Linked DNA regions of Homo sapiens: regions 1 and 2 are each linked to region 3. Evidence: fine-mapped expression QTL. A gene starts in region 3. Each other region holds a variant in brackets. All regions are shown on one strand. Distances are between the middles of the regions.

The links. PIP is the estimated chance that this variant, and not a neighbour inherited with it, causes the effect. A credible set is the group of variants that fine-mapping cannot tell apart.
Region 1: its variant is the best candidate, but not a certain one, in a credible set for the expression of CDC7 in whole blood (INTERVAL, PIP 0.86).
Region 2: its variant is the best candidate, but not a certain one, in a credible set for the expression of CDC7 in cerebral cortex (GTEx, PIP 0.52).

What each region holds. Positions count from the first base shown.
Region 1 is chr1:91,546,548-91,549,309 of GRCh38, reverse strand. All of the region lies in intron 3 of LOC102723436 (a long non-coding RNA gene), which reads left to right. Among named protein-coding and RNA genes, the nearest start is that of CDC7, 47 kb to the right of the region's middle. The variant C/A (reference allele first, on the strand shown) is at 1,256.
Region 2 is chr1:91,524,531-91,527,292 of GRCh38, reverse strand. It overlaps CDC7 (cell division cycle 7), which reads right to left. Exons shown (of 12, transcript NM_003503.4): 12 at 1,529-2,762. All of the region lies in intron 4 of LOC102723436 (a long non-coding RNA gene), which reads left to right. Among named protein-coding and RNA genes, the nearest start is that of CDC7, 25 kb to the right of the region's middle. The variant AT/T (reference allele first, on the strand shown) is at 1,582.
Region 3 is chr1:91,499,293-91,502,054 of GRCh38, reverse strand. It overlaps CDC7 (cell division cycle 7), which reads right to left and starts at 1,204. Exons shown (of 12, transcript NM_003503.4): 1 at 1,107-1,204; 2 at 224-401. The coding sequence starts at 338. It overlaps LOC105378856 (a long non-coding RNA gene), which reads left to right and starts at 1,207. Exons shown (of 3, transcript XR_947599.4): 1 at 1,207-2,762. RefSeq lists an enhancer at 363-562.

The DNA of each region.
Region 1 (2,762 bases), 47 kb before region 3:
AAGAGGCAGGGATAAATTAGGGAGGGCCTCAGATGTAGGGTGGGGGCTGGGGGATCTGTGAGGAAGGAAGATGTGGTGCCCAGAGGTACTGAGAAACCTCAGGGCTGGGTTTGAGGTGGCTCTGTATTTGAAGGGTGGAGCCCAAGAGACGGCTCAAAACAACATCCTTCCTTCCTTCCACAAATGTTGATTGTGTGATACATACCAGGCACTGTCCTGAGCATTGGAGATACAGTGATGAAGAACAGTCTTTTACAGAGTGGTTTAAGACATTTTTGAGGCAATCAGACTTAGGCTTAAATCCTCCTGCCTGTGCCACCAATTAGCTATGACCCTGGGAAAATTATTTAAGTCTTTGAGCCATGGCTTCTTCAACTATGAAGTGGGGACAACCTGACAGTTATGACTGAGAAAAGTGAGATTATGCAAGTGAAGCATTTAGTGTCGTCTCTGGTGCAGTGAGGACTGAGTGAATGATGGATGTCCACACAATGCTGTAAACCCCATAAGGCAGGGATTGTGTCTTGGGTTCACCTTGAATCTTCAGCACTTACTGGTGTGCACAGCAGATGCTAAAAGAATTATCTGTTGAAGGTTTGACAGTTAATGGAAGAGTCAGATTAGAGGCTAGGGAGCAGGCTAAGGGTCTGGAACAGGATGCAAAGTCAAAAGCAGAAACAGGATGTAGCAACGGAATATTCATAGTAAGTAAGTTACTGGGCAGGGGGCCAGGGGAAGCCTCTTCAAGGGGTGGAGGGTGTGTAAAGGAGCATGCAATAAAGGCACAGGGTTGTGATAGGTACAGGGATCTCCCCCTCACACCAGACCCATGGGCTCATTAACACTCCCCCCTGCTCACCTAAACACACCCTGCCCCACTTCCAGCAACCACTAATGATTACGATAATAACAAAGGCAACTAGCAGGCAGGACAGACAGTTCAATTATTAGAAAGTTGTCTACGGTGAAAACTGGGGACAGAAAGATAGGCTCTTGAGACCATATTTCTAAATCAGGGGCCAGTTTGGGAGGGAGAGGACCCCAGATCTGTGGCTGCTCAGATTTCCTCTCACCCTGTCCCTAGCCCACCATCTACCATCTATCTCCCTGATAGGATGGGTGACCATAGGTCCAGGTTGCCCAAGTTTAAGCTTGTTCCCAGAGCAGTCATTACTAAAGCAGGGATTCTTACACTTTTGTGTATACACCAATCACCTAGAGATCTTGTTAAAATGCAGACTTCTATGCAGTAGGT[C/A]TGGCTGGGTCCTGAGATTCTGCATTTCTTAAAAACTCCTAGGTGAGGCTGATGCTGTTTGCCTGAGGACTAGAGTAGCAAAGATCTACCTACCACTGGTTCTCAAATGTAACTATATCAGCATCATCTGGATTGACTCTGGGGTCCCAGACACACACACACACACACACACACACACACACGCACACACACACACGGTGTGCTTCAAGGGGGCTCAGAAAGACCTGCTCTGAAGTAGCCCCCTTCAAGAACTTCCATCTGCCTTTCCCACCAAATCTTTTTTTTTTTTTTAATTAAGGGAGCACAAACAAAAAATCACCGTGTTACCCTTAATGAATACATCTCAGTCTACACACAAGAGAAGGCATCATGGGACCTGGCAGCTCTCAGAGGGCATTGGGAGTGTAGCAGCTCTTCCTGCTCCAAAGAGCCACTCTAGAGTTTTCTAGAGTTTTTCCTTCAGACGTCCTGGTGTTTAGTTGTGTGGCATACATGAGGCTTTGTGGCAGTTGGTTAATATACTGTGGGACAAGAACTGAACTAGGCACTGTGTGGGACAGGGAAAGATGCACTCTGTGGCTTTAGGGAATTTGAAATTAAAAGATAAGATTTCAGATTCTTTCAAAGCCCGAGCTAAACACATGAAAAAAACAAAAACAAAAACAACAACAACAAAAAACACAGAACACCAGAGTGCTGAAAACAGAAGAATTGCAGTGGATGGGGTTGGAAAAGAAAGGCTTCCAGTTAGAAGTCAATTTCACACCGTGTTTTGCAGGAGCGAGTCCAGCGGATTCGTGGAAATGGATGGAGGCTGCTGAGTTGAGAGACTGAGAAGTGGAGGTACCTAGGAAGGTCCTCCCTGAAAATACATCGGGTTGTAAAACCTGGAAAGAAATACCTCCATTTGTCAGGCACTCACAGGGCGCTCTCCTCTGGCAGCTCCCATGTTGAGCGCCCAGGGCAGCGACCAGACGGCGTCCTGTCCTCCTGCACGGGGCCAGAACTGGATGGTCCCGCGACACATCGTGTCTGCAGCTTTAGAGGCCTCCCCAGGAGTGCTACCGCGGTCATTTCTGCCCAGCTGTAAAATAACACCCAATCAGCGAGCCGCCAGCTGCAAACTGTTCCGACCTACTCCTCCCTCCCCGGCTTAATTCCCACCTATACCAAAGTGGCCCCACGCGGGCAGAAGCGAAAGACGGAAATGAGGGGAGGCCAACTACTCGAGATCTGCGCCCGAAGCAGATTTTCCACGCGCTCAGAGTAGGGTCGGGGAAAGGCCCACTTGGGGCTTCTGAGAGAGAGGGAAGGGCAGGGAAAGGGCTGCCCCCCAGCAAGACACAGTTGGGTGAACAACTGAGTCTTTGCCTCGTTGACAAAGGAGAATGAGGGACTCGCGCCAGGCTGGCTTGAACTGACTGGAGAAAAGCGACTTCTGTAATTCAGGGCCCTCCTCGTGCGAAGGAAACTTTGGCAAAGCAGAAAGACAGGCATGCAGTTTCCA
Region 2 (2,762 bases), 25 kb before region 3:
AAAACAGAGATCGAGAACAATTGTGTCCTTTTAGTTCATTGTCTTCTACAGAAGAAAAAATCAGGTCAGATTAAACTCTTGAAACTGTTGCAATTACTTGTTTTCCAAACTTCAGTTTTTTAATTTTCTCTCTTTTAATTTGCAATCACTTTCCTAAGATCATGCCTTTTTACTTTAGATAGCTAAAACATCGTTTACTAAATATTTGCCTTAGCACTGACCTTTGTGGTTACTTTGTTGAAAACTGTGCTGTAACTTGACACAATATTAACTACTTCTGATTACTTATCTGGTATACGTTTGGTAATATCTACCTTTCAAGAAAGGAAGACAGTTCAGACACATAATTTGACAAAATTAGGAATCAGCAACATCAGTTCTTCGAACATAGGAAAAAATCTGAACAGAGTTGACATTTCTATCTGGTGTTAGTGTTCTTTAAAGACCACAGACAACATGCACAAATGTAGGCGGAAACAATACATCTGCAGATACTGGCAGACAGCATTACCCGCCAAATTTGGCCAGTTTGTTAAGATAAATAACTTTTCAGTGACGTGCAGGGCTGAAATTACATAAACAACAGAAATTACTAAGACTTAAGCCTACGAGTTTTGTGGGTTTCAAGATTTTATGCAATCAATATTCTGACATCTGTAACACCATTTTGTCCCTAAAATGCTGATGCCAGGAACAGTAAGATATTAACGTTTTACTTGATGACTTGCTCATTATCTTGAAGTAAACCATGATTAATTCTTTGGAATAACCATTATTGAGCCACATATTTAGGTCATTAAGACAACTATAATCATCTCCTTATAAGGAAGTTTCATTAAAAATGCCAGAGAGCTCAGCCTGCTTCAAAAACCAATACTTGTAGCTTGTTATATTAATAGTTCTAAATGTCTAAGGCTTTTTAAATGAAAATACCCTTAACAGTTTTATCGAGCCTGAGCACTAGGAATTTTTAAAAACTGACAGTGAAAAATAGCTGATTAAGAGGAAATGGCATTAACTAGTTACCTTCTTAGTCTATCCTTAGAAATTCAAATATTTTAGAGACATTTCCCATTATTTAAAATGGTCTTCAGAAGGCTTAAAAATCTAAAGAATACGCATATAAAAGCTCCCTGCCAATTCTGATTTAGCACATTGGGAATATTTGTCCAAAATTGAGGCAATATTCTTCAGTGGGACTGAAATTCCCCGAGAACTAATTTGTAACACTGGGTATATTTAAAAACACTAGCTCCCTTTTACTTCCCCCTCAATATCAACCAAGTTCTTTGCCATTAATGAAAGTTAAAACAACAGCCCTGAATATTAAACTTTCTTAGAGAATGTCTCCTTATCTACCCTTTGGGTAAATTTTTCTTCCTCTTTAATTTCTGAATATATGTTAACATGACTGTTTCATTAACATACTATTTGCTGAAAGAATATCACCATTCACCCATCTCAAAAGAAAAATATTCCCAGTTGTCAATTAAAAAAAAAAGCTATTTTTCAAATGAGTAGTCTGACATAAAAAATATAAAAGGATAACTTTATTGAATATACAAATTCAAGAGCATTCAA[AT/T]TTTTTTTAAGATTATGGCATAAGACAGATCAATGGTAATGGTTTATATATCCTATACTTACCAAACAGATTAGGTAGATATACTGACCTATCAATGCTCAAAATAACAAAATGAATACATGTCCCTAAACTATTTCTGTATTCTATGACTACTAAATGGGAAATCTGTCAGCTGACCACCCACCAGACTTTTTCCCATAGGAAGTTTGATATGCTGTCATTGATATATACCATTTCTGAATATAAACCTCTATCTTGGGTCCTTTTCTCTTTGCCTACTTCATTATCTGTCTTCCCAACCCACCTAAGACTTAGTCAAAACAGGATACAGAGATCTGGATGGCTCTACGCAGAGGAAAAATCTCCAATAATACCGTCAATTCTGTATTCACTTTTCCTTTCAGCAGCTACCTAATTATATCTAAGATGGTGTGAAAAAATATACAACTCAAAAAAGAAAAGCATTTGGACTATCAATCTTCACCTTGGTCCTGCAGCTTCCCTTTATCAACCAGTGTATGTATTATTTTAAATTCCCAACTGTAAACACGTACAATATTTAATAAAACATCCAGAAACTTTGTGGTCAGCACCATGTAATTTCCGAGGAGAATGTTTTAGGTAGGGGCAGAGAAGGAAGAAAATTGAGAAGCCAGTAAGAAAAAAATGGCAATTCACACCAGAATGCTTTCATGAAGTGTTTTTTAAAAATGGATGAATTCAATTTTAAGTGATACTTTGCCCCATGACCAACATTTCCTCATTGTTTTAGTGTTCATAAAAGGCCTAATATGTACCTCTAGAAAAGGAAATTATCTTCTTTATTTACAAAATTGTTAAGAGCACCAGCACCAGGTTGAGTTTCCCCAAACTATACCTAGCTCATAACTCTAAAAGAATCTACAAATTAAGTCTTTTGATTCATTTAATCCTCATCACATCTGTTAATTTTAATTAATTAAAACTAAAACTGCTCCTTTTTCTGTATATGTCAGTGAAAGGTAATTAGGGAAGCTAAAAATCTGACCTAATAGGAACCCACCTAAAATCTACTTAGGTAGGTTTAACTCAAAGAAGATCATGTTGTTAGTCCCAAGAACTATCCCAGGCATTTTAAGTATTCTTAATCTATATTTTAGAATGTGCCACCAAACACTAAAATGTTAAAATAAATTATTAA
Region 3 (2,762 bases):
GAGACCATAGCAACTTCAACCGTAAAACAGGTTGTATTACAGTCTTCCAAATCGCAATTCAGTCCTACATTTAGATCATACGAAGCTCTGTTTTAACACTGTCCTATAGAAACATACAATTCACTTTATAAGATTCAATCTTATTTTTTGAGAGGAATTGAAAACACAGAATTGTTGCCTGAAAAATCTTTATAACTGTACATCTTTGGATTTAAACACGTACCTGCAAGTTTAAAATTCTGCTCGTTTTTTTTTAAAGAGCCTTCAGCCTGAAACCGGTCACGCTGGGGAGAAAAAGCCATTGGCTCATCCATCTGAATCCCCAAAGACGCCTCCATCACAAGCCAATTGAGATGCAAAATGCCAGCTAAGGGGTTACATCCACAGGGGGAGCAAAGCAGCTGTGAAAATTAGAACACTAGAGAAATTTAGATCACTCGCTAAACCACGCACTAAAAACATGCTACTGCCCCCCAAAGGGGCAAACATTTTCAAACGCACGATGTGTCCAAACCTCCACAGTAGGGCATACTGTGGCCTTGTCTAAGGAATTCCATGTGCTTTATTTTCACCTATCAGAAACACCGGCAGGGGGCTGCAGGGAGAATTTCCCGGCTTGGGCACCCGCGCAGCAGCAGGCGCAGTGGGAAACGGCGAGGCTGCCAGTCCGGCACAGCCAGCGGGACCGCGTGGGGGAGGGGCCGAGCGCCGGGGGCGGTTTGAAGTCAGGAAAAGAACTGAGGGAGAAAACCTTTTCGCCACTGACAGGAAGCGCCAGGAGGCTCGTCCAAGGCCCCAAGCAAGTTGACGGAGAACTGATACGACCCTGGCCACGAGTACTGGGCGGAGGAGGAGAAGGGTGAATGAATGGGAATCCGCCGGCCAGCGCTGGCCGCGAGCTCAGCCGGGAAGGACCGGCTTCCCTCGGGCCAGAGACCGAACCAGATGCTTAGTGCGCAGGCGCGCGACTTTCCCGCCGCAGGTCGGAGGGATCCGAAGGGGGGCGGGAAAAGGAACTGCACGGCGAGAAAACCGAAGTCACGATCCAGAATTCGTTCCTAATCCCTCACAATCCCGCGCCATGGAACAAACCGTCGGAAACTCACGGTTTAAGGGAGTACGACTTCTGTGGCTCCCCAGATGCCTGGGTCGCCGTCTCCAAGAGATCCCCACCTACCGAGTCGATCGGATGCGCCTGCGCAACACTTCCCGCCGCCGCTCTGGTTGCACATGCGCACACTAAAGCCCTCGACCCCGCGGATTCCGCTACTGGGCGTTTGCGCAAGAGGGTGGGGTTTCTTCCCGCCGCCTTGGCCAGCTAGAAGAGCGGTTACGGGAATGAAGCCCGTGGATGATCTTAAAAAACAGGGTGAACCATAAGGCTAAGGGCCCAGCATGATTTCCAGGAAAGAAGCTAGCTCAGAGAAGGAAAAATCTCAGGTGCTGACACATCCCTATATACGTGGCCGGCCGCACAACACATTGGGCACTCCATGGATAAAAGGCACTTTCTTGACTCTGCTTTTATTTCCTTTTCGTTGAGTGCCCTACTTCCCCGTTAAAAACAAGCAGAAAATGTAATTGCTGATTGTTTGTGGCTGTGTTAGTAGAAATTAGCACAGTGGCAGGAAGGCAGTGTATACTATTTACTGAGCCCTTGGCTATGAGGTAGGTGGGTTTTTCTAGGGGCTGGAATCATAGTGAGCAAGATAAACACCATCCCTGTAGGAAGCTAAATTCCAATGAAGCGATGACAATAACGGATGAATAAATGAACAGTATTCTTTCCGGCATTGATTACTACTTGAGGGAAATACTGACCAGGAAGGTGGCATCTAGATGGTCAGGGAAGCCCTCTCAAAGAGACCTGGATGAGAAAGAGCTGGTAGGGAGACTGTTGTCCTGGCAAAGAAAGGATAGGGCAAATGCAGAGAGAAAGAGGAACTTGGTATGTTGCAGGGGCAGGGCAGGAAAGGCCAGTGTGGGGGAAGCATAGTGAGTGAGCCGCAAGATAGTCCCAGATAGATGAAGGTGGAGAGTTAGGCAGAAGCCAGACCAGGGTCCTTGAAAGCCAGGGTAAGAAGTTTAGTGTTTGTTCTGAGTACAATTGGAAGCTATTTGAAAGTTTTAAAGCAAGGGAGTAATATGATCTATCTGTTATGAAGAGAATGGATTGTAGAGGGGCAAGTGTGGAAGCAGAGGAAATAGGATGCACTTTATGTTTAGGAGAAACATAATGGTAGTTTGGACCAGAACAATGGCGGAAGAAATAAAAGAAAGAAGACAATGGGATTTGGTGATTGGCTATGGAAAATGAAGAAAAGGGCATCATCAACAGTGAATCTTAGGTTTTGGGCTAGCATATGTGTGGGTGGTAGTGCCACATAGAAGGGAAGTCTGTGAGGTAATGGTTTTTGATTGAGTGAGGTGGAAGAGAGTAAATCAAGGATTCTAGTGTGGATACCGAGAAAGAGAAAAGCAGACCTTGACATCCAGGAGATGGCCTGGTACTACCAGCTTGGTTTGCTGTTGCTTTGAGCTGGCCTGGCAATCACAGCCAAGCATTGGTATTCTTCTGTTGAACATAAACAATTTCACAGAACATCAGACAAGACAGAGTTGTGACCGTGATAGATCAAGACAAAAGTAAGATCACTCTATAATCATATGTGAACACAGACACAACATCAACATTGCCCAAGCCATAAAAATGATCAAATATCTCCTTATCCTAGCTAATATGAGTGCCTGCTGCTTCTTTA